2 linked regions of the Homo sapiens genome follow. The protein of the gene in region 1 interacts with the protein of each later gene in a biochemical or structural test. Each region holds a gene or a part of one and is shown on either strand. Other genes may lie near its edges. The genes, in order: ASCL1 and MEF2A.

Region 1 (9,125 bases):
GGGCCGCTCCAAAGCCCGCCGCGCAGCCAATGGGCAGCGGTGATTTATGGAGCTGACTAACGCGCGCTGAATGCGGCCTGTCAGAGCTCTGTGAATGGCTTCCCTTCGCCGCACAAGCCCCGGCTTTGTGTTGCTAAGCGATTAGAGCAGATGTAATGAGATTTTGCCCAATCCTCGCTTTGCCCTTTCCTAGCTTAGGCAAAATTGTGTGTGTTTTTGTGAATTTTTCGAGTTTGCCTTCGCATTGTGGCAAACAACGACTAACTTTGCCTCGAGTTTAACGAGACTGGATATTTCCCATTCAGAAGTGAGTAAAGAACACCTGTCCTCACAGGAGAAGGAAAAAAAAATCCCCCTTTGTGGGGGCTGAAACATTATCCTAATGTTATATTCATAGCCATAAATGACTTGCTACACTTTCTTTGCATACCTTATCTGGAATCTTGCAAAGGAGCTAAATTAAAGGAAAGAGAAATGGAGAGTGGGGGTGGAGCCCATCTCTGGTCCTCCAAATGAGAAGATAAAAATAAAAGCAGGCATCACAAAAGCATTACTTCTCTCAAGTAAGCTCTAAATTGGCCCACTGCTGGCAGAAAGTCCGATTATTTATGGCGATGAGGAATTTACTGATTTTTTTTCCTTAATTACGCTCATCTCTTTGAAAGGGACTGAAGCCTCAATGTGCATTCTATAGAGGGTCATTTAGCAAAATGACATCAGACGCTGTGGCGTGCTCCGCGCATCGTGGCTTTAAAAAATGATTATTCTGTGCCACTAAATGGTATAGATGTACCAACACAGACTAGATTTTTAACTCTGGAAGACGTGCTGGCTACCCGTTCTTTGTTGGGTTTTGTAAGATGCATTTTGCGCTCGGCTTTCCGCTTGGCTGGAGACACGCAAACTGAATCTGCAAGTAATGCAGGCGGCGAGCGAGGAGCCGGCGAGAGGCCGAGTAGGATTCTAATCACGTCCTTGCTAACTGACAAGAAGCAAGCCAGCCAAAAACCCACCAATTTCTTTTTGAATCTTGGTAATTGGGTACTTTTACACGCAGCTCACGCTATTCGGATAGAGTCACAAGCTTAGATAGACCAGTGTCTCAAAGCGACCACACATTTCTAATGCGTTTTTTTAATTAAAATCTCAATCCGTTTGGAATGAATTCATATCATATATGCCTCTTACTTAAAATCAATATAGCAAGTAGGTGTATTGGAGAAAATGAGTAGAAAATGTATGCCTGGAAGTGAGGGAAGAGAAACATACTCACCACTAGGAGCTTGTATGTGGAGAGGGATGCCTCTCCAACCCCCATCCCAGAACCACCATCCTCCCCACCCAGACCTAGTCTCCATTATTTCATCCAGCCCCACCATAGTTTCACAGGGAGAAACTCAGAATGGAGTTGAGAATTGGAAAATGGTGGAGGACCCTCTCTTTCTGGTTCACTTTTTTGGGGGATTTTAAATTTTGATCAAAGGATAATGCAGCCATCTATTCTTTTTGGTGGGCATGTACATTTGCAGCATAGGATAGAAAGAAAACATATATACATGTACATACACACACACACACACACACACACAAACACACACTCATTCATCATAAAGAAACCATTTGGATGGGACTGGCCATAGCACTTATCATTGTCATTTCTGCCACTTAGCATGTTTTGCAACATTTTCTTCTCCATCCACCTCTTCCCTTTGACATTTTCATAAAACTGGACCAGGGGCATCAGAGTCAAAGAAAGCTTAGAGTCAGCTGATTATTTTCATTTTAAAAAAAGGAAAAAGTTTTATTACGAAACTAGTTTGTATAAAACAGGGTTATACATATTTTTGTAAGTTTGTAATAAAACAGTAAGAAAAAAAAAGGCAGTAATAGAAATCTCCAAAAGGCAACCTATCAAAACCAACTGGCTGCCACTTTGAGTTTGGACAGTAGCTGCATAAACTTTGTTCTTCTTGAACAGTATTTAATAACATCATTAATACATTAACAACATTTCTATAAAGTAAGACACATTGGTGCTGAAGTACAACTGGTGGCCTCTTGATCTCACCTATGAGGAGAGTTCTTTACAAAACCACATAGGGAAAATTGCAGTTGTAAGGTGAACTACACATCTAAAATATGCAGAGGTAATAGCATTACATGTTAAAGTATCAAGATATACACATTTTAAACCATTTGTACAAAACTTCTATAAATTTTTCTCTCTCTTTCTCTCTTATGTACAAAAATATCTTAATATATCCCCGAACTGGTTAGGATAGATACAAATAGATTTTTTATAATAAAAAATTCACAAAAGATTGGAAGCATTCTATAATGAAAATGGTAGAAAAGACAGTGTGAGGGAAGCCATGGGGTTTGGGAATCGGGCCCTGGAGGAGAAGCAGAGTTTCAAAGGGCTGAGAATAGCATAGTTTCACTGTAAACCAATGTCTACAGCTTATTGGGGTGGGGGCTACTGAGACGAAAGACACCAACTCGTTTCTAGAGGGCTAAGAACTGCACTTTAAGAAAGGGCGAGGAGGTGAAGGGACCCGAGCAAGAACTTTCAGCTGTGCGTGTTAGAGGTGATGGGAGTTACTATAACGCGTGTGCTGCTCCCTTCTGCCAGGAGCCCACTGCTTTTGCACACAAGCTGCATTTTGCGCATTGACTCAGGTCCCAGTTGCTCTTCATATCTCCGTGAATGATTGGAGTGCAAAGATACTGTTCTGAGCGCTTCCCGTTTTCTGAAAGCCATGTCTCTCAGGCATGCCTCGCTTAGTTGGCGATGGGGTTGGTTGACTGTTTTCGTTTTTTTCTTCTTCTCTTTTCTTCTTCTTCTTCTTTTTTTTTTCTTTTCCTTTTCTCCCCCTCCCAACGCCACTGACAAGAAAGCACTAAAGATGCAGGTTGTGCGATCACCCTATAACATAAGGAAAAGAACAGGAGAGGTTAATTTGAACGTGTAGGCTAGTGGTAGAGGGAGATGGAGGTCTGGGGAAAGAGTCTGTCAGGTAGACATCTCTTTTAACATGTCCCAGTATTCGGTTCACCAGTATCTCTGCACCTCACTACTACCCTTCACTCCTTGGAGACCTGGGCAAGGCCATTTTCAGAGGCCAGTGCTGAAACTAACAAACTAGGACTTGAAATCGACCAACTTTCACAAATTCTTTAAATAAAAATCCCCTTATCTCCTTGGAGACATCCCCACTTCCACAGACACTCAGAGGGAGGACGAAGGCAAGAATACCCCCCTGCCCACCCCAAAATGCAACCTACCTGCTTCCAAAGTCCATTCGCACCAGGGCCTGACCAGGCCGAGCCCCTCAGAACCAGTTGGTGAAGTCGAGAAGCTCCTGCTCCTCGGGGCTGAGCGGGTCGTAAGAGCCCTCGTCCGACGAGTAGGATGAGACCGGCGAGCCGGCCATGGAGTTCAAGTCGTTGGAGTAGTTGGGGGAGATGGTGGGCGACAGGACGCCTGCCTGGAAGGCGGCGCTCACCGCGTCATGCTCGTCCAGCAGCTGCTGCAGCGCGCGGATGTACTCGACCGCCGAGCGCAGTGTCTCCACCTTACTCATCTTCTTGTTGGCCGCGCCGTTGGGGACGTGCTCCCGAAGGGTGGCAAAGCCCAGGTTGACCAACTTGACGCGGTTGCGCTCGCGCTCGTTGCGGCGCGCCACGGCGGCCGGCTGCTGCTGCGGCAGGCTGTAGCCAAAGCCGCTGAAGTTGAGCCGGCGTTTGCAGCGCATCAGTTCGGGCGAAGACGAGCGCTGTCGCTTGACTTGCTTGGGCGCTGACTTGTGACCGCCCCCTGAGGGCTGGCCGTCGGCCGCCGGTCTCAGCTGCGGCGCCTGCTGCTGCTGCTGCTGCTGCTGCTGCTGCTGCTGCGCGCTCTGCGCTGCCGCTGCGGCGGCTGCGGCCGCCGCGGCTGCGGCCGTGGCAAAGAAACAGGCTGCGGGCGGCAGGAAGGGCTGCTGGGGCTGCGGCTGGGGCTGCTGGCCGGCGCCGCCGCTCTCCATCTTGGCAGAGCTTTCCATGCGCAGCGGCGGCCAAGGAGTCGCGGAATCAGAGCGATCCGGGACGCGAGGTGCGGGGCCCGCGAGGGGGACACAGAGAGAACTTGGGTGCAGGAACAGAGAGGGAAAGAAAAGGAAATATGAAGCGGGAGCCCTGACGGAAGTTAAAAAATATATACAAAATCCCCGGGAGACTTCTTAGAGTGGGAGCAAAAAAAGTGAAAATGCTTTTTCTCCTCCCTGCACGCCGCCTCCTCCTCCCTCCCCTCCTCCCTTCGCGGGTTGGCTTCGGGAGCCTCGCGTGGCGCTCGCGTGTGAGGCTGCCGCTGGCGCCTTCTTGTTTCTAAGAAAAAAAAAAGCAGAAGCAGCAGCAAAAGTCAGTGCTGAACGCGCTCTGCCGCGTCTCGCGTTCCTCTCCTACTAAGGCTGCGCTCTCTTGCGCCGGGTCTCGGTCTCTCCAGCCGTGGCTCAGGCTGTTTTTATTATTTTGTTAACTCCCTTCCTTTCTGATTTCCTTCTTTCACTCGCCCTCCCTGGCCGGATCCCTGTCGGTGCGCCTTCCACGTTCCCTGGCCAGAAGTGAGAGAGTGCTGGGCTGCCGGAGTGCGTCCGCCTTTTCAATGGGACACCCAGCCCCACGCGCAGCCCTGGCCCCGCCTCGCCCCCCACTCCCCGCTGCTGCAGCGAGCGGCTGCAGCCCCCACTCCCCCCCCTCCTCTTACCTCTTCCTCCCACCCACTCCCTAAACTCCCCCTCCTCCTCTCCTCTCCCCCCCTCCCGTTCCTTTCTCCCGCTCCTTGCAAACTCTCCATTCAGCTGGGTTTGTTGTTGCAGTGCGTGCGCCTGGCGCGTGCCGGACTCCCGGCTGAATAAACAGGCGGCGCGCTCGGGGCGGGCTGCTGCCGGGGGTGGCTTTAGGAAGGGGGTGGGGGGCGTCACAGGAGGGACAAATGGCTCTAGGAATTGAGGTGTATAGGTGGAAAGACTTGGGGTGAAGCTCTCTTGGATTCTACTAAGAACTTGAAGCAAAGCGCAGGGAAGGGTTTGGGCAGAAAAAATGGCACAGGAACGGTGTGGAGGTGAGGAGGGAGTGGGGCTCGACTTTTCCTGTTTTCTCTCTCTCCTCACTGTTATTCTCTTCGGGTTCCTCGGTGACCCTAGAAATTGGAGCAAATTACGATTGAAGTTTAGAAACATGGTTGGGGGAGGGACTCCGTCCAGAACAGTGAAAAAAAGTGCTGGACTATGTGAAAACGTGGGTTCTAGTCCCAAGGCGTCCTCTCAATGCTCTGTGGCTCCTCGAAGTGGCATCCTCTCTGAGCCTTCGCTTCCTCGTCTGCAGCCACAGAATATGGTCTCTAATGTCCCATTCAGCTCTAAAAACTAGGATGTGCTCCCCATAACTGAGCAAGTGTGTGGGGGGCCGCGGGGAAGCGACACCGAGGAGTGGTTGTGAGCCGTCCTGTAGGTGGGTGTATATGGCAGGGACGTCCCCCTAGGATGACCTCTGGCCCCCTGTACCATCGCCCCCTACCGCCACCCCCTCCCCATAAAGATTATTTCCGGACCAGCTTAGCGGATATCATAAAGAAGGGAGTGCTCTGGGATACTCCCAGACCCTCGGAGAAGAAAGATGCGGGGCGGGGGTTGAGTGATGGCGCTTAGGGCACTGGTGGGGATTCCTGGTTCTTCGGCGCCGCCGCGGGCACCTCGGCGGCCTTGGCGCAGCCACCATCCCGCCCCAGGCGTGTGCCCGGCGGCCCGGTGGCAGGCGACTGGGAGCGGAGCCCGGCGGGGCCGCGTGCTGGCGCCGAGAGGGAGGGGGAGGCGCTTGCAGCCGTCGCTCGACCGCTTGGACAGCGCCTGCCCAGGCGTCCTTCCTGGGCCTTCGGCCCTGGCGCTCTCTGGCCAGAACCCCGTCCAGCTTCAGGACGTCTGGGGACGCGGCGCTGCGGAGAAAGCAGACCAAGCAATAGGCCCCATCTCTTTAAGGATCTGGTCCGGAGAGAGGCTGGGGCATGTCTCAGGTCTTGTCTACATAGGCAGAACGAAGTGGAGGGCAATCATCCATTTGATTTTCCAGTAGAAATAATCCGAGATCTGGGTGCAGGAATGATTGTGGTGAATTATCCGGATAATTGGTTCTAATTGAACTCCCCTTTGTGGAGGTGGATCTTTCTAAAGGGCCAAGGGGATGACCCAGGGAGCTGCTCTTGGTATGTGGGCTGGCTGAGTGTTTCTGGAACAATAGTGATGATGGTGGGCAGTAATGACGGGCGGCTCCCGAAGTGAATCACCTCTCTTCTCTACCTCAGTTTCATCTTTGCAGAATAGGTAGGCTTCAGAGGTATAGGACCAAATCGTGCCAACAGAGGTCAATTCTGTAACCTTTCCCAGCCACACAGCCCCTTCTCCCCATGGTAACCTGTGGCTTGATGGCCTCACAGGACTGGCTGAACCCCGTGGGATTCACACCTCAGGCCTTTCTCCACATCCCTGACCAAGGAAAGGGCCTAAGAGGTCTCTGGAAGTATAGGAGGTGAGCACCCAAAAGCAGAGTCACAACACAGCCTGGGCACCCTGCACCTCCCAGCCAGAGTAAGCCTCAGACCACTTGCAGAAATAGGAATTATTCAGGCACTCCTTACCCACCTCCCACATGACCCAGCTGTGTCCTAATGCCCCATTCACTCTATTTCAGCCAAATAGTTGAGTGTTGGGGGTGGGAGGGAGTGTCGCAAATGTGGAAGCATCTAGATGTGTTTTCTTTTACATTAAGCTGAAACATGAGCCCCAAACTCCCTACTAACTTGGACTCACTTCACAAAGGTCCCGAGTCTGAGCTCTACCACAATGGTGCCTTATAACCTTGAACAAGTCCCTCTGCCTCTACTGGCCTCAGTTTTCTGATCTACACACAAGGGATGTACAGTAGCTAATTTTGAAACTTGTATCTAACAGCTTAGAAAATTTGCTGGTAGCCAGCACGTGTTTCCTTTTCCAGGATGCATACACAGAGATCTCAATACCAGGGAAGTAGAGGACAGAACCTCCTCTCCTCCTCCCCCCTACACACACCATGAAATGGGTGCCCAAATGGAGTGGAAGTGCATTGTAGTGAAGAAGCCTTGTCTTGTAGTGGCCTTACTCATTGGCCTCAGGCCAGGAGGAAGGACAGTCGTTGCTGGGATCCTTCTGGCCAAAACCGCCAGAACATTTGTCTCTATTCTCCCTATGCCAGCCCTGAGCCTGACCTCACTCTTCTCACCCTAGTATGCTAAGTTTTCTTCCTTACATGCTTTGCAAAGCCTTCCAAGAACCGAGGCGTTCTCCTCCCCCCACTCAAGTAAACCTGGAGTTTGCACCTCAACACTGTCATCTCCACTTTCTCCTCCAACCCTAGGGTAGAACAGTCTATAATTTTTCTTTAGAGGTTTGCATTTCTATCCTTGGGGATTCTACCAAGAGAGTTTTCCATTGATATTGGCTTTCTGGTTGTTTTCACCAGTGTGAAGCAAAAGATGGGAGGCTCAGGAGCCAAAATTAGAATCCTGCCTCTGACTGTGTGACCTAGATTATAATCCCTCCTCCCGACCTGAGAGAACTGGCCACATGTTCTGCTCTCCTAGGCCCATGGAATTCCAGATAAAGCAGGCTGATTTGACTTGGTATCTAGGCCCCTTTACCTGAGAGCTGTGTGACCCTGAGACACTCTAGGGGTCTCTATTTCACCTATGCCAGTAATTATAGTATCTACCTCCAAGAGTTGTGAGACTTCAATGATATGTATGTAGAGCACTCTAGCCCAGGTCTAAAGAGAAAGGGATTAATAAGAAAGTCATGCTCACACAACCCACCCAGGAAAGGGTGTGTGGCAGGAGGAGCCTCAGCACTTGGCTTCCTGGAACCACTCTGTGATCATCACTCCAGCCAATGGAGATCCAGTGCCACTCTGTCTCACTGTCCCAGCACCTAGGGGTGAGTCATTCCTGTCATTTTTGAGAAATGGTGGTGATACTGGCATATTAAGATGATGGAGATAGTAACCCGATTTTTAGACATGAAAAGTAGCAAGTAAGATAGACTATAGAGATGTTCTGTGGCCTCCACATGCAAGGGGCTTCAGCAGAGCCACTGGGCCCTGCTTTCTTGGCTCCCTTGCCACACAGTGGGCCTGATTCTGAGCAAGTCCTTAGGGCTTTAGTTGGCTAAGACACTTGAACAATGTCCCATTTATCTTCACATGAAGGGAGAAGTAAACAACTCACAAAAGGAAGGTTTGATACCTTCATTCATAAATGAGGTGGTAGTACTCCCTTTGCCTGTATGTCAAGGGTGTTATGAGAATTAAATCAGATGTTGTTGGGTAATTTGCTTTGCAAGTCTCTCCACATATCAGAGATTGCCTTTTCACTTTTTCCGAATAGCAGCATTCAGTGTTCTGTCTTGTCATGAGGGTGGGGGAGTGGGAAGGACAAAGCACTGATCCCCTTTGGTGAGTATCACCCAGAGTACAGACATTGCAGAAAGATAAGAAGGCTTCTCTTTCTCCTCCAATACAATAAGGGACTTAATTTCTGCACCTTCAGACCCCTTTCCTATATCAGAACACTCTGGAGCTGAACCATACTTCAGATTAGACTTTATCTTCATTCAGCATCAGGATCTGTAGGGGGAGATGGCTTTCCTAGTGGCCAAAGGGGTCTGCTGCCCTGAGATCAGAGACCCTGTGCCCTGAGTCTCCTGCCACCTTAATTTCCATTCACAGCTGAAGGCCAGGCCAGTACCACCTTTGCTGAAGCTCAAGACCTATGTATGTTCTCTTGATTGTGTGTTGTCTCTCTGTAAAAAGAAGATATGACTCATCTCTTTGAAAACCAATTTATGCTTTCTCTTTGGGGAGAGGGATTGATATTAAAAGTGAAACTAGGATTTTCATTGGACAAATAATTTAATAAAGTTATATTTTTAACTTTAGTTAGATTCTGAATCAGGGGCAAAGGGAATACAAAGATGAACACAAGTCTTGGATTCTGGATTTTGTTACAGGATTTTAAGTGTAATCCTCAATTTGGGGGTGACTTGAGTTCCAGAAGCAATGGA
Region 2 (12,670 bases), on another chromosome or scaffold:
CAACTACTTTTAATACATTATATTAATCTTACAGTACTCCCACAAAACACACTATATCTAACTCCGCAGACCTAATACACGTGCGTCCTGTACTACAGACTACACAGGTGAGGCTGACAGCACATCCTCACAGCACATCCTCAAAGGGCTTGTGTATTGGATGCAACAGAAGAGGAACACATCTAATGAAGACGCCATGTTAATATACTCAAGACTCTGTCAAAGCATATTTCAGTAATATAGGGAAAGTAAAATCCTGCTGATTTTTTAAAGACTAACATATATGCAAACGGAAATATGTGGAGTCAGGTTATAGGCCTTATGGAAGTTGTTGTTTTCAGAGTTTGTGTCATTATTGCTTACATAATGACACAAACTCTTAAGTATATTGGTCATATACTTTAGAAATCACTCTAAAGTAGATCACTTATAACTGTTCATGCCTCTATTTTATCCTGATGTTTTCAACCACATGAGATGGCTAAGGAGTCCAGAAGCTTATCACCAACTTGTTCAAAGTTCTTATAAATATACATAAAATCTTCAGTTGGTAAAAGTATACCTCAATGGTTTATAAAAATATGGGTAGGAAGAATATTCTTCTGGCCTGAATTAGGAATCTCTAAATAAGATCAACTTGCAAAGCACATAGAACCCCCTCAAATCTTTGTCAAATGAGTAAATGGGCATCAAAAAGCCTGCTTCCCATCAATACAACTGCCTGAAAGGAAACTGTGAAAAGGAAAAAATGGTATTCCAAAAATATCCTTCAATGAGGCAACTGTAAAGTACTTTGTAAAAACTAAGACCCATAGGAAGCTCTATGTAAGTAACTTCATTACTGTTATCCTGTAAATTTAATTTGAACCATAGCAAACTGTATAGATGCATTAGCGTAAGCCATTACACTACTGGCAAAAAGAACTCGTATGTGAATTGCACTACTAGTGAAGATGTAGGCTGCATCATCTTCATATGTGAAAAAAGGCCTATCTCACAAGCTTAACAACCACTCTCTTAATAAAAGTTGACTCAGTAAGACATTAATATACAAGAAGTGTGAATTAAGCCTTGTAATTTATCCTACCACAATAAATTAATCCCTAATAATCTAATGTGTCTTCTATCTACTGTATTTATATAATTTAGAACTTCACAAGGAACTATTAACACGATTCATTTTAACTTATTTTGAGGAAATGCAATTAAAAAGAAAACATCAAAATCCCAATATGTAATTGAGCCGCAAAAGTTTTCCTTCATATTGAAACAGACTGTAATATAGGAGACTGCTTAAAAAAATGTTTGGGATCTGCTCTCTTACACTTTGCTGTCCACAACAGAGATGAAGATTGAGGTAGTCTGAAAATTCTATGAGGATTAAATCAGACTACATTCTCCGTATTCTCTAGGGAAGTAAGCTTTAGGCAGTGTGAAGTACCCTCAACCTCCACGGACCAAGAATAACAACTGCTGCAATGAAAGAGCAGTGTAGTTAGGGTTAAGGAGGTGGTTGCCTCTATAATGAAATTAGCTAGAATACTTATTTGCTGACATTATCAAAGTCAGCTCCATTGGTTTGAGTTGAGGCAGTGTAACTTTTGATGAGACATATAGATTTATAAGATAAGAAGCTATTTTAAACACAACAGGGTTACTCTCCATTTCAAGGAAATCCAGTTATGAAGTCTCTTAACAAAGCTTACCTGAATGATACCCTAATTTACAATATTACAATACAAAATGTATTCATGACATGTAATAGGGGAAAGGTCTACTATACAGTATTATAAATAAATGATAACATATAACATAACTGCTAAATAATATAATTTATAAATGACATAAATATAACTGCATTAAGGGGTTTAGCTAAAGATATAACCATGTAGTTTAATCAAAGTTATCAACAAAAGCAAAATAAAAAATTTCATATACAATTCAGGGGAGGTTAACAGCAGTGAGCCCCATAAATAAAACTATGGATAAGTCAAGCAACAGAGATGAGTCCTAGCTGTAATTATGCTATACCTTTACTTCTCATTTGAAAAAATGACTAAAAAGTAACAAAAGCTGTTTTTAAAATACAAGTAATAGTTTTTATGTGTGTAGTAATGGTATCAATCACTGCCTGAAGAGGGACAGTTAAGGCAAAGAAGTATAGGGGAAATTTAAAATGCATTTTCGGAACAATAACAACTTGAGGAGGCAAATAAATTAGATTCCTATACAACAAAACAGCTAAATTATCTTTAATTTTAAATATTAGAAATACCATCTAGATTAGGACTCCATTTGTTCTTTTTCAATTGTTCTACATAATCCTCACATGGTTTCAGTACTTTCACCAAAGAAATGCCTAATACTTTTCTATTACAAACTAAGCCAAAATATGCATCTTTCAAGTAATAAAAAATTCCTCCACTGAATAAATATAAAACCTCCAAATATAAACAAAAGAGACAAAAGTAACTATGAAGCTAATTTAAAATGTGATTAGAAATACACATGGAAAAGTTATCTTATGGAAGATCTTGAAAGAGAGAAGATAAAAAGGGGGAAGCATACTGGTTTCCATTTTGAAGGTTTTATTGTAAAACACTATTTCTGAGAAGATCATTCTAATAATAAATCCTTTTCTTTTTCACTTAATTAGGTTGGGAGAACTATGAGAGCTATCAAATAGGCAGCAGATAAACAAAGAAAATGAGGACTTTCTCCTGTTGCCCAACTAAAACACTATTAACAAAGCAAATATTATTTACATAATTGTCATTGTTTTCTTAAGTGTTTAAAGTTGTGAGCTGTCAATGACATAATGAAATGATTAAGACATACCAAAACTGTAACTTCATACTGTCCAAAAATGATAGTCTCTTACAATATTAATTTTAAAACTCATACAAAATAAGTAATCATAGATGAAATGTTAAGATTATGCTGGTATACATGGTAAAACAACATAGTTTACTTTGTCTGAATGAATAGAGTATGTTTATAACACAAGTGAGTCGCCATACAGCAATCACTCTTCTAAGAAATGATTTAGAGAAAAGATACATATACACCTAATTTATGTTTTAGATGTACAAGTCATTCTGACAGTTAATGCTATTAAACAAAATATTTCAGTATTACTTGCAATTCACGTATTACTAGATATGTGTTACCTCAACAATATCCGAGTTGGTTCTGCTTTCATGAGGTTCATTATATTCTGTATACTTGAGAAGAACTTTGTCCATATCAGTGCTAGCATATTGAAACAGTTTGTTAGAGCTGTTGAAAATGATGAGTGCTATTTCACAGTCACAGAGCACACTAAGTTCATAGGCTTTCTTCATTAATCCAAACTTTCTCTTTGTAAAAGTGACCTAAACAATAAAAAAGGTATATTTTTATTAAAAGCATTAGTAGTACTTGAATATGGGCTATCTGAAGATGAATCTTCTTCTTAATACTGAGCCAGATTTCAAAGATGGAAAAGGTTCCCAGCTTTGTCCTCCATATGAGCCTTCCCTCTCCTGTTGTGCTACAGTCCTACATTTGTTTTGTATATGCCAAGTTCTCCGACAGAGCTGTCTCCTGGGGAAGTATTTCCTTATCCTTGGCTGCCACTCCACTACAGAGGGTGAAGCACCACAGAAGGAACAGTTGATCAGTGTTCCCTTATCATTCAGTTAAAATTGTTACCATCAGAAACCCCAAATCCCAGCCAGGTAATGTAGCATCAGCCAGACTTTGATCCCTAAACAACTAAATACATCCACTAATCTGAAGTATTTCTCCTCCCTCTCAAGCCCTTCTCTATTGTACCCACTGAAATTCACAGTCTGGGATCAGCAAATTCCCCAAAGTCCTCAAATTCTTCTTTAACTGTTTCTTTCTTTAACTGAAACCTGTTACCTGAAATCCTCTCTAACAGAGACCCCCCCAAAAAATTTTTTTATTTACACCCTTTATATTGACTGAAGGCCCTAAAAGAGATGTCTTTTTATGCTCTGTATTCTCTCTTCGACACTACTTTTCTTTCCCTCCCCTTCAAAAACTTCAAATACTCTGAAGCTCATGCCATACAAAAATTATACCACCCAACAACCCTCCTTGGGGTGAGCAAGAGTTACCCTTGATCCCTCTTCTTCTAATACGGGATGGGAAAGGAATGCAAGGGAACTCTCTTTACTTTCTGCTCAATGCTGTTGTGAACCTAAAACTTCTCTAAAACATAAAGTCTGTTTAAAAAACAGTTTTTGAAAGGTCAGTAAGAATATACTTTTGAATAATCTTTGGAATTGTGCAACAACATAAAGTTCAGCAATTTTCCCCATGGATACCTATCATACGATTTTCTTCCTATAAACTTTAACTACTGGCCTAGACTTAAAATCAGTTATTGCAGTAGCTATTAAAGAAGTAGAGGATCTCCAGTATCATGAAAAGCAATTACTACCACTAGAAATTTTTTTCACGGGCATGACTTTAATATCCTCTTTCATTACAGATACAATACGTACATGTAAAAGCAAAACAACAACAAAATTCATTTCACATGTACAATTCAATGATGTTTCTGTATTTTTTCAGTCTATTTCCTATGTAGCATGATAAAATTAAACAGTGGTATAGTAGTTCAATGGTTTTCACTAAATTTAAGCAGAGTATCTGTTTTCTCCCTATAGTAACACCAAATGCATTTAACATCTACTCATCTTAGCATTTAATCACCTTAATCCCTCTTAATTTTATGTAGATCTAATCTCTTTAACAGTCTCAAAACCTTATGTTTTCTCTGTATTTGTCAAGTGCACAAAGCACAATACTCCACGTATTATATGACCGCTCAAATATTCTGTTAGCTAGTAAACTGAATGAAAATAGAGTTGAGAAGGTTCTTTAAATATTCATTTAACAAGAAAATTTAACTAGCCAATACCATCTAGTCTGTTCATGATACATATTTACATGTAAATTGTGTCATATACCCAAATCACCTTTTATGAATCATCTTTGAATACTGGTCTATATTTGATACTTTAAAATTCTCAGCAGGGCACGGTGGCTCACGCCCGTAATCCCAGCACTTTGGGAGGCTGAGGCAGGCGAATCACGAGCTCAGGAGATGGAGACCATCTTGGCTAACACTACGAAACCCCGTCTCTACTAAAAACACAAAAAATTAGCCGGGCGTGGTGGTGGGCGCCTGTAGTCCCACCTACTCGGCAGGCTGAGGCAGGAGAATGGCATGAACACTGGAGGCAGAGCTTGCAGTGAGCCGAGATCGCACCACTGCACTCCAGCCTGGGCGACAGAGCGAGACTCCATCTCAAAAAAAAAAAAAAAAATTCTCAATATAAAACAGAAATTACAAGTAGAAAAACCTCCGCATCTGTTGATGTACTTGTTTTTACAAATACATTTGGGAACAAACAAAAACAAAATAGAATACAATGGAGGAAAGCAATAAGGAAAGGAATGAAAAATACTATCACTTATGACATGAGTATATGCCTAGAAGATTAGATTATAACAAAATATAACAAGTCACAAAGCAAGAAAACAAGCTGTTAAGAGTACATTTTCCCTTGATTTTAGTGTTTTCAGTTCAAAGTAAGTTTTTGGTTGTCATACAGAGATTTTCCTTCTACATACTAGCTTTCTAAGACATCTAAAAGTGAAAAATCAGTAAAAGCCAACTAATTAGTAGAGTGTTAATTAGTATTTTACAATACAGCCACGTTTCAGTTCATAAATTTGACATGAAAGAGGTAACGTAATCTAAAATTAGGCTACAGAATACTAACTACATAATTAAAACTCAAGACTCAACTTTATTATTCTAAGACAATATTTTTAAACTGATTTCAATTACATTAAAATGATGTAAATTCTTTATATTAACTTCAAAAGAAATCACAAAAGTTAGTTTTAAATTCAAAATGGAATAAAGTCATGTTTACTCCTCTCTACTCCTCTAAAAACATGGACACATACATACATACACATACATAATACTAAAAAAGAGACTGGGTTTTCTTCAAGGAAAGTAAGAATCCCTAACTACAAATTTTCATCTGCCAGATTTGGTGAAATTTAGAAGAAAATGAAAGTGGATTCAGAGAATTCACACTGAGTTCTTCACAAAAGTGGCAGTGTCCTCTGAGAGGATCCTCTGATTAGTGCTACAAGATTCACAAGTATCAGAAGCCCATGAAATAAGTGAAGAATCTTGTTCTAAATGTAGAATGCCAGGGAAGGTGAAACCAAAATAAATAAAGAAAATAATTTTATAGGAAAGCTATTTCTGTTAACTCATACTTAATATAATTGCCAAAAACTGTCAGAGATAACAGATCTAAAATGTGAGCTGGTATGGCTCGGAAATGAATGAGAAGAGAAAAAAAATCAAATCATAACAGAGATTTTTAGCACAATAATGAAAATCAAAGAATCAAAACAGAAAACTAAAATGAATAGAAAAAAGTTGTTTGTATTGTTGACAGATAATGAAGATACCAAAAAAGCCCAGAGCATTTAGCAAAGGAAAAATATTTATTAAAAAATAAAATACAGAAAGGCATACAATCTCTCAAAAAAGTGATAAGGAATAATCAAATTCATGGCATATTCAGATTAAGTTACTGAATGTCAAGGTCAAAGAAAGAATACCATGTACACCAAGGAAGGAAGTGAGTGACTTTTAAGAAGGGAAAAAACTCAGTCTGGTGTTAGAATTCTGGCAACATTCAAAGTCAGAAGACCAAATCTCTACGATGTTCTGGGGAAAAGAAATAGGGCCTATACCTAGAACGTTAGACCTAGCCAAGTCAGACTTCAAGTATAAAGACAATAAACATTTTCAAACATAAAAAAACTCAGGAAGTATAACACCTACAAGCCCTTGTTAGGGGCAAAAAAACCAACAAGCATTACTTGCTGAAAAAACAAAAACAAACAAACAAAAAAAACCAGTCATCTGAGTAGAACATAAGTTGAAAAAAGTTCAATGCTGCACGCTCAGCTTCTAAAACAAAGCTACTGTGTGGCAGTGAGGCGGTGCTAAACAAATTTGTTGAATAAATCTGTAAAGGAATAATGAAGAAAAAGTGAGAAACCCCAGAGGGTATGCTGGAAAATGTACGGGGTCAGGGATGTGGAGGCTTGTAGCCTGGAGAAGAAATCGGCCAGTGGGATTATGAGAAGACAAATTTTTTAAGACAGAGTCTCACTCTGTCGCCCAGGCTGGAGTGCAAGTGGCACGATCTCGACTCACTGCAAGCTCCGCCTCCCGAGTTCATGCCGTTCTCCTGCCTCAGCCTCCCGAGTAGCTGGGACTACAGGCACCTGCCACCACGCCTGGCTAATTTTTTGTATTTTTTAGTAGAGACAGGTTTCACCGTGTTAGCCAGGATGGTCTCGATCTCCTGACCTCGTGATCCGCCCGCCTCGGCCTCCCAAAGTGCTGGGATTACAGGTGTGAGCCAACGCGCCCGGCCGAGAAGACAAATTTTTAAAACAGCAGTTTGGGTTCAGCTTGTGCTTCTCACCTCCGCTGCCTGGAACACTCAATGCCTGCTACATCACAAGAGAACTGGCAGCCATGCTGATGCAGACAGACGCCCTCCAGAATGAAACCTGGGCAGTACAAAAGCTCTGCTGGAGATAGGAGTTGAAGACATCAGGTAGAAACTGACTAACCTCTGGCAGGGTGACTTCTCAACCATTCTTACTCAGAACCTCCACGTTTGGTGGATTGCCAGGTAGATGAAATATCTTCTTCCGATGTCCTCTTCCCTGGGGGGCTCTGTGTGGAGCTGCAATCAGAGTTCTTTGCGGACACTATGGCTTTTTCGACGGCTGGGACCCGCTAACCCATTTATATGATCGACTGGGATCACGCAAACTAGTGCAAATACGTGCGAGATCACAGGGAATAAACATCAACTAGACTGGTGGGTTAAGAGATGGATCAAACTAGATAAAAAACCAATATGCAGCCTCTCATACTATCTATAAAAGACATACCTAAAACATAAGGAAACAGTAAGGTTGAAAGATAACACAGAGTTTCAGACCTCCAAGAAAACACTGGCTGGGCGCCGTGGCTCACACTATAATCCCAGCACTTTGGGAGGGCCAGGTGGGAGGATCACTTGAGCTCAGGAGTTCAAGACCAGTCTGGGCAACATGGTGAGACCTCACCTCTGCAAAAAGTACAAAAATTAGCCAGGCATGGTGCGCATACCCATGTTACTCTGGAGGCTGAAGCAGGAGGATTGCTTGAGCACAGGAGGTCAAGGCTGCAGTGAGCCATGATCATGCCAATGCACTCTGGCCTGGGTGACAGAGCAAGACCCTGTCTCAAAAAAAAAAAAAAAGAAAAGAAAGAAAAGAGGGGAGGGGAGAAAGGGAGTGAAGGAGGGAGAGAGGGAGGAAGGAAGGAAAAGAAAAAAAGAAAAGGAAAGGAAGAAATATGTAGCTATATCAAGGTGAGGTAAGGTAGATTTAAGACAAACATGCCTTACTGAGGATAAAGATGGTCAATATGTATTGCAAAATTTGCCAAGAAGGTACATCACCTCTAAATATGTGCAAGCCTAACGAAATAGTCCCAAAATGTATAAAACAGTATTATTAAATCAATAAAATATACAGAGAAATTGACAAATCCACCATTGTGGTACATACAATTATTGATAAGTCTCAATGAACAAAAAACAAAAAGTCACAAAGAATACGGAAGGTTAGAACACAACAATGAGAGTTATCTGAAAGATATATGGAGATGCATGCATCCAACAATCAAAGAATACATATTTACCCAACTCCATTCGGAACATTTAAAAAAACCAATCTTGATTTAGGAAATAAAGCAAGTCTTAACACACTTAAAAAGGCTCACAATCTACTGAAATAAGGGCAATATACAACACTATGGTAAGTCCCGTCATAAAAGTGTTTACAAAGTGTTTTGGTAAAGACTGAAAGATACTATCTGAAACAGAGACAATACATACAGAATTAATATCCAGAATATGTAAAGAACTTCTAAGAGAAAAAAACCAAAACCAACAACCCAGCACAAAATAAGCAAACCACAAAAACAGGTTGCATTTCACTTTCCTAAGACCAGAAAAAAGAATAAAATAAAATTTAAAAAGGGACAAAGACAGAAAAAATAGAAAAGAAAGGCAGACAAGACAGAAAGAAGGAAAGGCAAAGTATATGGGCAAATAGGAATTATCATACAAACTTACTGCAGTGTAGCTAGTACAATCACTTTGGAAAGCAACTTGAAAACATGGTAAAGCTGATGATGGACATACTCAGCCTAGCAATTCCTTCTGAAACTATCACAGAGCAACTTTTACCCATGTATAATGAGACAGGTCAACAGATGTATACTGCAACACCATTTATAACAGTAAAAAATTAGAAACAACATAGTTGTTCTTTGATAGAAGTATTGATGAATTAAGAATATTTATTCCTAAAACTAGCTGTATTGAATGAGAGCAGATGGATCTCAAAACACTACACTGAGTGAAAAAGCAAGTGCAAATGAAAACGTCACTATGTAAAACTTTAAACCCATGTTGAAACAATATTAAATAATACCTGTTAAAAAATATAAAGAAAACACAATGTAAATTCATGATAGTGGTTATGAGAAGGAAAGTAGGAAGAGACCAGGAAAAATTATAAAGAGGACAGTAAATCTCTAATTTTTTTCACTTTATGAATAAAAATAAAAATACATATAACAAATGTGTCAGCACTGACATATGTTACTTCTGGATAATGAATATAGCAAACCTTGAAGTATCGTTCTCTGTACTCTACCTTTGGAACCTTTGGAAAAAACTTTTATTTTTAAACTGCTTTCTTTCTTTTTTTTAAGTATATGAGGATGTCTGCTTTTAGGTTAGAGGGAGTAGTTGTTGGAAGACCAAAGAACCCACTGAAATCAACTAGTAAAACAGGATGAAATACAACAAATACCTCTTTAAAGACATCAGAAAGCTGCTAAAGCAGGAAGACTGGAGATGCTAAGATTCTATAATCTCTTTCACATACAAGGTCTGAAGGCTCATTAAAAACCACTAGACATGTCAAAAGACTGCATCGTATAATTGAGAACAAAGAGAAAAAGGGATCAGATATGGACTTACAGGTAATCCAGATATAGCTATTCACAGACATGAACTTAAAGATAACTATGGCTAATATTTAAAAAAAAGCTTAAAAATGGAGAAAATGGATGACAAGATGGGCCATTTCCATAAAAATGAAAAATCAAAAAATTCTAGAATTGAAACTATATTATCAGAAATTAAGAACGTACTAGGCTGTTTTATCAGTTAATTTTAAAAAGCAGGAGAAAGGCTTACTAGAAAATAGATTGCTAGAAAATAACTAGAAAACATTCAAACTGAAGTACAGAGAAAAAAAGAGTAAAAAATACAGGAGGACAAAATACATAAGAAATGTATGGGATACAAAACCGTTATATGTAACTAGAATCCCAGAGAAGGAAAAAAATGGGACACAAGCAATATCTGAAGACACATGCCCCTTGTGGGTCCATCACAGTAAAAATGTATATTAACAAAGGAAAAGCAAAAGGCTTTAAAGCAACAAAAGAAAAGAAAGACACATTATCTTTAAAAAAAAAATTTTTTTTAAGATCAAAAGCTGGCCTCTTAACAGAAATGAATGGAAGTTGGAAGACAACTGCTTCAAAGTACTAAGAGAATAAAACTGCCAATCTAGAATTCTACAACCAATAAAAACAGCTTTCAAAATGATCATACAACTAAAAAACAATTAAAAATTATGCAAAGGATTTGAATAGACATTTTTCCAAGGAAGATATACAAATGTCCAATAAGCACATGAAAAGATGTTCAACATCATTAGCCATCAGAGAAATGCAAACTAAAACCACAAGATACCAGTTTATACCCATCAGGATGGCTACAATAAAAAAGACAGGGCTGGGGGCGGTGGCTCACGCCTGTGATTCCAACACTTTGGGAGGCCGAGGCGGGCAGATCACGAGGTCAGGAGATCAAGACCATCCTGGCTGACACCATGAAACCCCGTCTCTACTAAAAATACAAAAAAATTAGCCGGGCGTGGTGGCAGGCGCCTGTAATCCCAGCTACTCAGGAGGCTGAGGCAGAAGAATGGCACGAACCCGGGAGGCGGAGCTTGCAGTGAGCCGACAGCGTGCCACTGCACTCCATCCTGGGCGACAGAGCGAGACTCCGTCTTACACAGAAAAAAAAAAAAAGACAGACAATAACAAGTGTTGGCTGGGATGTGGAAAACTTAGAATGCTGACACATGGCAGGCAGAAAGCAAAATGGTGCAGCCACTTTGGCAGTCTGGCATTTCCCAAAATGTTAAACTTAAGAGTTACCATGTCATCTAGCAATTCTTAAGTATACTTTTATATACTTAGCAGCAAATATGCAGAAAATAAAATTTGAGAAGAAATGTTAATAATGCTTTAGAAAATCAAATATCTACTAATAAATATAACAAAAATGTAGAAGACTTATTTTGAAAACTATCAGCCATTATGGAGAGAATTAATGAAAACCAAATGAAATACAAACATGTTCATAGATTACAAGACTTGACACTGTAAAGATTTCAATTCTCCCTAAATAGATCCCTACATCCAGTGGAAAAAAAATATCTAAATTCCAGTAGGTTTTTTGTTTTCTTAAGTGAACAATGACACTTGGTTTCATTTGGATATTCTGAAAAAGGGCAAGAATAGTCAGCTGGTTCTGAGAAAAAAAAAAAAAAGGTGCAGAACTACACCACCAGATATCAAATTATAGTAATTAAAACAGTGCAGAATTAAGCAAGGATATACAAATAATCAAATGGAACAAAACAGAGAATTTAGAAACAGTTTCACACACATATGGTTACTCGACTCATGATAAAGGCAACCCTGTCATATAGTGAGGAAAGGATGGTTTTATGCAATAAATTGTACTGGGACAACTAAATATCCATCTGGAAAATAACAAATCCTGACCCCTACACCTCAAACCAAACACAAAAATAAACACCAAATGGATAACAGGTCTAAAACATGAAAGGTTAAAAAAAAAGAGTCCTTACAGAAGAAAGCATAGAAGAATATCTTTATGGCCTTATGGTAAGTAAAGATTTCTTAAACGTGACACAAAAGGCACTACTCATAAAGGAAAGGGAAAAAAAGGTAAATGGGAAACCATTAAAATATTATTGATTTTTTAAAACATTAAGAAAGTGTAGGCCTGGTGTGGTGGCTCATGCCTGTAATCCTAGTGCTTTGGGAAGCCAAGGCAGGAGGATCACTTAAGGCCAGGAGTTCCTGACCAGTCTAGGCGAGACACCATCTCTACAAAAAAATAAAAGAATGGGTCGGCCCTAGTGGTACATGCCCGTAGTCCAACCTACTCAAGAGGTGAAGATGAGAGGATCACTTGAGCCCAAAAGTTTGAGTTACAGTGACCTATGATCGCACCACTGCACTCCAGCCTGGGCATCACAGCAAGACCCTGTCTCTAAAATAAAATTTTTAAAAAAGAAAGTGAAAAGGCAAGCCATAGTTTTAGAGCTAATATTTATAATGCATATCATGGACAAAACACTCACCTGATTATAT

What was found.
Region 2: the proteins of ASCL1 (region 1) and MEF2A form a complex in vitro, tested with the Homo sapiens proteins (one study listed by BioGRID).

What each region holds. Positions count from the first base shown.
Region 1 is NC_000012.12:102,953,163-102,962,287, reverse strand, and holds ASCL1 (achaete-scute homolog 1), read right to left. Parts: upstream 4,615-9,125; 5' UTR 4,044-4,614; coding exon 3,333-4,043; 3' UTR 3,286-3,332; intron 2,927-3,285; 3' UTR 1,775-2,926; downstream 1-1,774.
Region 2 is NC_000015.10:99,636,265-99,648,934, reverse strand, and holds part of MEF2A (myocyte-specific enhancer factor 2A), read right to left. Parts: intron 3,375-12,670; coding exon 3,171-3,374; intron 1-3,170. UniProt on the Homo sapiens protein: Transcriptional activator which binds specifically to the MEF2 element, 5'-YTA[AT](4)TAR-3', found in numerous muscle-specific genes. Also involved in the activation of numerous growth factor- and stress-induced genes.